2 linked regions of the Homo sapiens genome follow. The protein of the gene in region 1 interacts with the protein of each later gene in a biochemical or structural test. Each region holds a gene or a part of one and is shown on either strand. Other genes may lie near its edges.

Region 1 (3,746 bases):
GGAAAAAATAAAAGGAAAACATACACGACGCTAATTAGACGAATGCACAGCCTTGGACGTGGAGAAGGCAGAGCGGGTTTACTGTCAAACAGTAAATACATGCATTGACTTCAAGACAGAATTGGCCTTGGAAGCCTTTTTGAATGAAAGCTGAGCCGGTGGGCAGTGCAGCTTTCTGAGACTGTCTTTGGACAGATCTCGAAGGGTGGGTTTTGAGGTGCCACTGAAGCTCTCCTTACATTACTATGGTGGTTGTGTTTTAGATTTGTTCTATGGAGGCCTGCTACCAGAAATAAAAAAGAAAAGAAAGAATGAAGACAAGAAAGAAAACAGAAGCAAACAAAAAGAGAGAGAGAGAGAGAGACTCCACCACCACTATGGACAAAGATATTTCTAGAGACATGATGCAAAGTACATTAAATGACATTCTTAGAATCCCTTTCCCCTAAAAAACAAAAAAAATTCATAGAAAAAAAAGGTTTTTCCTTATCCAGGTTTTGTCAGTCCTTTATGCCACTGTAACTACAGGATTCAAAGCTTATGGGGCTAAGGGCTTGGAAAAAATCAAAGACAAACTTTTGGAGATGGGTCTTGCATATTCCTGTGGGCTGACTGAACACCGTGGCTCGGGGAAGTCTGGGTTCCTTCACACTTTGACTGTCAGAAAATGAAGATCACAAGCTCTGGGAGGTGTAACCTTGTCGGCCTGCCTAGAGCCCACACCTGGCGGCGGCAGGGACGGGCCTGGGGAGCGGGCTGACCACACGTAACTGTCATGCCAGGGTGTGAAGACACAGAACATCAGTTCAAACCTCAGAGGAAAGAGAAGGCTCTCTAGCATGGAGAGCGTGGCATTACTGGGAGGCCCTCTGCGCACGAATGATCAGAAAAGGGGCGTTTTGCTGGCAGGGACAAGGGCCAGAAGAAAAAGTCTACAGAAAAATGCTAAGAGTTAGTGTTCGTGCCTCTGACTTCAGTTCCCAAAGAAAAAACAAACAAACAAACAAACAAAAAACACAGAAATTTGAGGGACTCATCTTTGCCCAATCTTGTTAATGCCATTTGATGGGAAAGAAAAAATTCAAATGTGTCTCAGAGTCAAGGGCTGGGCCTTCAAATGCTGATAGCTCTCAGTCTGTCTGTCTACACACCCCAGGTAGCAAAGTCTTCCTCAAGCATCTTCACTATGCTTTTAAGCTAAAAAGCAAAAACACTGGCAACTGTTGGTGTTTCTTTTTTCCTGCTTGATCACAACTGAATAGTTTCCTGCTGCTTTCTGGACAATGAAACATGAACAAAAATGTAACTTCGTGTATTTAATACTTAACCCCTGTTCGTTATCACCCTAGACTGCCTCCCTAATGTTTTAAAGCCTTTAAAACATTTTTTCCTGCAAATCTGTTCAGAGTTCCCTAATTTTAGCTTCATCAAACTTAATACAACAAAATACCTTCAAAAATACAGCATACCTGTAACGTCCATTTACAATGGTTTTTCAGTAGACCTATACTTCTCAAGCATAGGAATATGCTATACCATTGAGAGAAAAAAATAATTGTATTTAAATACTTACAAAAAAAAAAAAAAAAAGGAAACAGGAAAGTTTTAAACTTAAATCCAGTTCCCAAAGGGGGGGTAAAAAGAAAGAAAAGCAATTCTATGAACGCTGCCTTTATAATGAACGATCAGAAATTTTACTAGGCTAATTTGACAGAAATTTTTCCTCATTTAAACAACATTACAAAAGTCCTGCATTATAAAATAGGGTAGAATAAATCAGTGTAATCAATAAAACTATACAACAATACAAATTACATATCTTCTGAGCGGGCAGTTTATTCTCTCTCTTTGCAGTCATGACTACAACATGCTCACTAAAAACAACTAAAACTGCCCAAACTATTGCTTAGTTTGTTTTGTTTAAAAAAGGGTGCAATTTTATTGTATATACAACCAATTTACTGGTAATACCTTGGCTTATTGCAAGGTTCTGACAAAATGTTTGTCTAGGCTTTTTTCCCTTCACTGTGAAGCACTGAAAGCTGCTATTTTTTCTTTTTTTTTTTCTTTTTTTCCTTTTTTTCATTTTTTAGTGCACATATGTCATAATAAAGTAATGCCCAGCTAAGTGCTATAGGGGAAGGCAAAGTATGCTGGCTGGCTATAGGAAGTGACACCATACACTGACAATCACACCATACAACAGCGCCAAACGACTATTCAACCACTTATCAGACACATATGAAAATCCAAAATGTTTTATTTTATTTTTTTTTCCTTAAATAGAGATAACCAGTAAACAATTTTCAGAACTTGGAAGTTTAAAAACGTGCATATAAAAATGGGCATTATATACTTTTTATTGAATGTGGATTGACTGCAGTCTGCTAAGAAAAATGGGGTGTGGGAGCTGAAGAAAAAGGAAGTTGTCTTTTTTTTTTTTAAGGCTTGCTTGTGAAAGGAACAGTTGTAAAAACAAAATTGCTTGAAGCAGGGTCAGCTTAGTGCTTCACAGTTTGACTGCTTCTCTAAGAGGAGCCCTTCCTGCGCACGTGCATTCAAAAATCACAAAAAAGTACAAAGACAAACACCTAAAACACACTGCGTCAAGTGCAGCACCGACTTTGGTCAAATAAAAAAAAATAAAAGAAAAATTAATAATTGCTAAGCTTTTCTACATGATATAAGCAGGTATTGCATATTTTCATATATCTGGGGGAAAATAAAGGAAGACTCCAAATAAATTGTAAAATGCAGCAACATCCAAAATACTGATATTCTAAGCATCTACAGATCTCAGAATAGCACTGCCACCGACCGTACAGGACAATAAAGACTACTCCTATCTGCGGAACAACTAGCTTTCTATTTAGTTCTAGATGTTGAAACTGACGATGGCTGACATAAAAGTCACATTTACAAAAAGTGTCTCCAAATGCTTGACTAGGGAAAAACCCCTTTCAATAGAGGAGCATGTGCAACAATTCCACAAATAATCGCTATCCAGGGCAAGGCACATTGATATGGAATTTTTGTTTTCGTGCAAATTAAGGAAAAAAAACAAAACAAAACAACATTGTTTCGGGGAGAAAGATGAGGAGCAAAGTGTCTTCCCAAGAATTTCAGTTACTTGATTGTATAGGACAGTAGTAGAACCCTTCTGAAGGGCTGAAAAACATAGTTTAAAGGCAAGTGCCTAGAGTAGGGATTACAATATTGTGTCTTAATGCACTCTACTTTATCCTACATTAACTATATAAAAATTAGTTACTAACACTAGAACATGCAGAGACTTTCTCTGATCAGCAGGGCTTGCCAACCAGAACGTATATATATGTATAGTATAGGAAACCTTCTTGAAGTCGCATGGGAAGCAAAGGGGTGCTTCGCTGTCTGGTAGAAAAATCACTTGCACTTTTTTTTGTTTTTGTTTCTGTGGTTTTTTGTGTTTTTTTTTTGTTTTTGTTTTTTGTTTTTTTTTTCATAAGATACAGGACGTTTGGGGGTGCAAACTTTTTTTTTTTTCCCTAACAAGTACCCTTGATCTGAATGGGCACCAGCATTTGTGTCAGTATTGGTTTCATCATTATTATTATTATTATTATTACTATTATTATTTCCCATAGCCCAGTTCAGGGATGCAAAGGTCTTTAAAACTTCTGGACAATCTCTGGTACAATGAGGTGTCTGATAACTGATAAATCCTATGATGCCAGATAGGTGTAAAATTTTTTAGAATTGGCGTA
Region 2 (3,746 bases), on another chromosome or scaffold:
ATGTCTTAAGAATTTTTTTGGAAGGGAAAGAGTGTTTATCTCCACCAGAAGACTGCATCAACCTTAAAGGTAGGAACCATGTATATCTTCAACTCAGTACCATCAACATTTTGTACCCAGTGGACACAATAAATGACATCCTTCCAATTCAAGCTTTCCATGCATGTGCCTAACTCCAAGAGGGATCCCCTGCCAAGACTTGTATGATTGAAATCTGAAAGCCTAGGAATCCTCACTGGATCCCTGGTGAGGACAACACAGGAAACCTGAGGGGCCAGGATCAAAAGACCTTAAATCAGAAATAAACAAATAGACCAGGTGCGGTGGCTCACACCTATAATCTCAACACTTTGGGAGTCTGGGGCGGGTGGATTACTTGAGGTCAGGAGTTTGAGACCAGCCTGACCAACATAGTGAAACATTATCTCTACGAAAAATACAAAAATTAGCCGTGCGTGGTGACCGGCGCCTGTAATCCCAGCTACTCAGGAGGCTGAGGCAGGAGAATCACTTGAACCCGGGAAGCGGAAGTTGGAGTGAGCCAAGATCACGCCACTGCACTCCAGCCTGGGCAAGAGAGCAAGACTCCGTCTCAGAACAAACAAACACTATTTTCAAAAGAGAAAAAGAAAGGATAAGGATACATTTCTGAATCCTAAGGTCTCACCACGGGAAGCCTGTATCTTTACAATTCAACAATCAGCATGGCCCCCAGAGATGACGGGGTTCATCCATTCAGATGAGAAAATGAAGAAAGTGGCAGGATTTTGTAGGAATAGGAAGCTCCTTCGGGCTCATGCCCAGCCACAGGCTGCCACAGCACGGAAAGGAAAAGTGAAACCAGCTCCATCAAGTCATTTTTCACTCTAGGATTGTCAAAAGCTTTACATTCATCTCTTGGGATCCGAGGAGAGATATCTGCCGAGAGAGAATTTGGATCGGAGCCAGCAAAGCAAACTCCAGAAGCCTTGGCTGCTGCGAAAGGGGATTCAACACCTTTCCGGGTCGTTCTCACTTCATTTCCAGCCGGTCCCCCTTTGGTGCTGTTTCCCAAGTAATCAGACCTCAGGGGTTGCCTCCTGGTGGGGAAAGGGAAGCTTGCCTTGCTGGAGAAGGGGCTCAAGGCACAGGACTTGCCTCGGACTTGCCAAGGAGGCTTGCAGGAGGCTCTTTGTCTACTCCTCTGTCCTCATCCAAGTAAGAGGAGCGGGGAATTCCGAGGCTGTAACTGCCTGGGAAACGCCAGCCACGGAGCTGCTGAGGATCAGACTCCTGGGTTTCAGCATGGAGGCCAGGGAAGGGTCTGATAATGGGTATGGGTCCTGGCGAGAGGGGAGTGGAGAAAGGCCTTGGAGTGGGACGGGGCGCCAGCTCTGGGGGCAGTCTCGAGGCACCTAGAAAACCGGCGAGTGGGGAGAGGCTGCTAAAGAGGGGCTCCCTGCGAGAATGCGTTCACCAGCTGTGAGGACCTGGCTGGCGCACGAACTTCCAAAGACCTCACATCTGGTTGGTGTAGGGGCGACCAGTGGTAAGGGGGCTGCGGAAAGGGCCCGCAGGGGCTGTGCGTGATGCCTTCAGAGCTGTGTATGACACCGAGAGAGTCAGGGGCGGTGACCCGCGTCTGGAGGTGGAAGGGGAAGTGAGTGAGGGATGGATGTGAGGTTTAGGAATGTGTTGGAAAGAGAGATTCCCGCCAGGTAAAAGGTCTGATAAAATAGGTTTGGAAATCTAGGTGGTGAGGAAAGGATGCGGGAGCAGGTGGCTCTGCGTGCGCGCTGCGTGTTCAGCCGCCAGGCTCTTACCTGCATTACAGGTGGAGGTGAGGAAGCCACCGGCTTTCTGTCTTGAGCGCTCCCCTGGCTGTGGCTGCTGGGGCCCTAGGCCCGCGCCCCGCAGTCCTCCTCCGCCAAACCCCTAACCTGGCTCCGAGAACTGGAAGGTCGCGTGGGAGGAAATCTCTTTCGAGAAGCGCCAAGGCGTGTGCGCCCGGGTCCTCCGCAGGCGGGCAGGCGCGCGAGGCGCTCCGGTAATCGCTATCCTTCCGGGAAACGAAAACGAAAGAGCGGGATGCGGTTCCACTTGCGCCGCTGCGGGCTAGGAGCAGGGCAGGGCAGGGCAGGGGCCGGCCCCGTGGGAGCGCAGCACCGGGGCGCTGCCCGCTCGCTAGCCTGGGAGGCGTGGGTCCTGCACACAGCCTCCAGCCGGCGGACAGTCCCTCTGGCGACCTGGCCTTGGCTCCCACTGGGGCAGAGCCGGGATTCTGCAGGATCTGAGGATCTAAGGGGACCCCTAGTCCTGAACTCGGAACCAACTGCGTCTCTCACGGTCCCGAGCCCAGGACCAGGAAGGACCCTGTGAGTCTCCGCACATAGGATAGGAAGGGGCCTCGCATGGTGCCTCTCCCTTTAGGGGTGAGTGACCTTCCCGGCCCCGATACTGTCTCGGCCTGCCGTTTGGCCCCGCTGAGGCCCCACAGGTCCGGAACCGTCGCACCACCATCAGAGCGGCTGTGCTCTCCTGAGCAGGGCCAGACTACTCGGAGATCCCGACTGACACCTTTTCCTGGGCCTCTGGGTGCTCCGGGGTTGGTGCCTGCCCACCCATCACCCTTTCCATCTGTCTCAGCTCCCCCTGTCTCAAGAGAGGTTGTGCGCATAAAAACAAACCAGAAGACACCGAAGAAAAGGAAAGAAAAGCATTAACAACCTTCTGCTGAAAATCTGAGGGTGTAGACGCTGTTACAAAGTAGGCTTAGCACTGGTATATCATCACAAGCTCTAGGCCAGCAATAAGAAACCAGTAAGAACAAGGCCAGAAACCCAGTAGGAAAAAAAAATGAGCAAAGGATATGAATAAACAGTCCACATAAAAGGAAATGCCAAATGGCTCCTGAATATACAAAAAGATGCCCAGGGTGCAGTGGCTCATGCCTGTAATCCCAGCACTTTGGGATGCCAAGGTGGGAGGATCGCTTGAGCCCAGGAGTTGGACACCAGTCTGAACAACATGGTGAGATCCTGTCTTTACTGAAAATTTAAAAAATTAGCCGGGCATGGTGGGGCTACACCTGTAGCCCCAGCTATTCAGGAGGCTGAGGATGGAAGATCGCTTGAGCCTGAGAGTTGGAGGCTGCAGTGAGCCGTGACTGTGCCACTGCACTCCAGCCTGGGCAGCAGAGAAAGAAAAAGATGCTCAGACAAACTCACTATTTTAAATGTGCAAATTAAAGTTATTCTGAGATAGAAATTTTTACCCATAAATTTGGCAAAAATTTAAAAGTTTACTAACATAATCTGCTGGAAAAGCTGAGGTAAAGTGGTGCAACCCCACAGCGGGGTCTGGCAAATTTACAAATGCATTTTCCTTTCACCCAGCAATCTGCCTACCAGAAATTTATTCAACAAATATCCAAAGTATACATAGTTACTTATTTAATCATGGTTTATAATAGCAAAGTATGAGAAATAACTCAGGTGTCCACAAAAGGAGGCTTGATAAACTAATGCACATTCATTTCTTTTAATTTTAATTTTCTATTTTTTTTTTTTTTTTAGAGACAGGGTCTCACTCTGTCGCCCAGGCTGGAGTGCAGTGGTGCCATCAAAGCCCACCTTAACCTCCAACTCCTGGGCTCCAGTGATCTCCCACCTCAGCTCCCAAATCACTGGGATTACAGATGTGAGCCACCACACCCAGCCAAATTATGTACATTCATTTAACTGAATACAATACAACACTTTATGGAG

Evidence for each region.
Region 2: the proteins of NFIA (region 1) and ETV7 form a complex in vitro, tested with the Homo sapiens proteins (one study listed by BioGRID).

What each region holds. Positions count from the first base shown.
Region 1 is NC_000001.11:61,456,532-61,460,277, reverse strand, and holds part of NFIA (nuclear factor 1 A-type), read right to left. Parts: 3' UTR 1-3,746.
Region 2 is NC_000006.12:36,385,734-36,389,479, forward strand, and holds the start of ETV7 (transcription factor ETV7), read right to left. Parts: upstream 1,937-3,746; 5' UTR 1,809-1,936; coding exon 1,803-1,808; intron 1,198-1,802; exon of another isoform or gene 887-1,197; intron 788-886; exon of another isoform or gene 668-787; intron 1-667. UniProt on the Homo sapiens protein: Transcriptional repressor; binds to the DNA sequence 5'-CCGGAAGT-3'. Isoform A does not seem to have a repressor activity. Isoform C does not seem to have a repressor activity.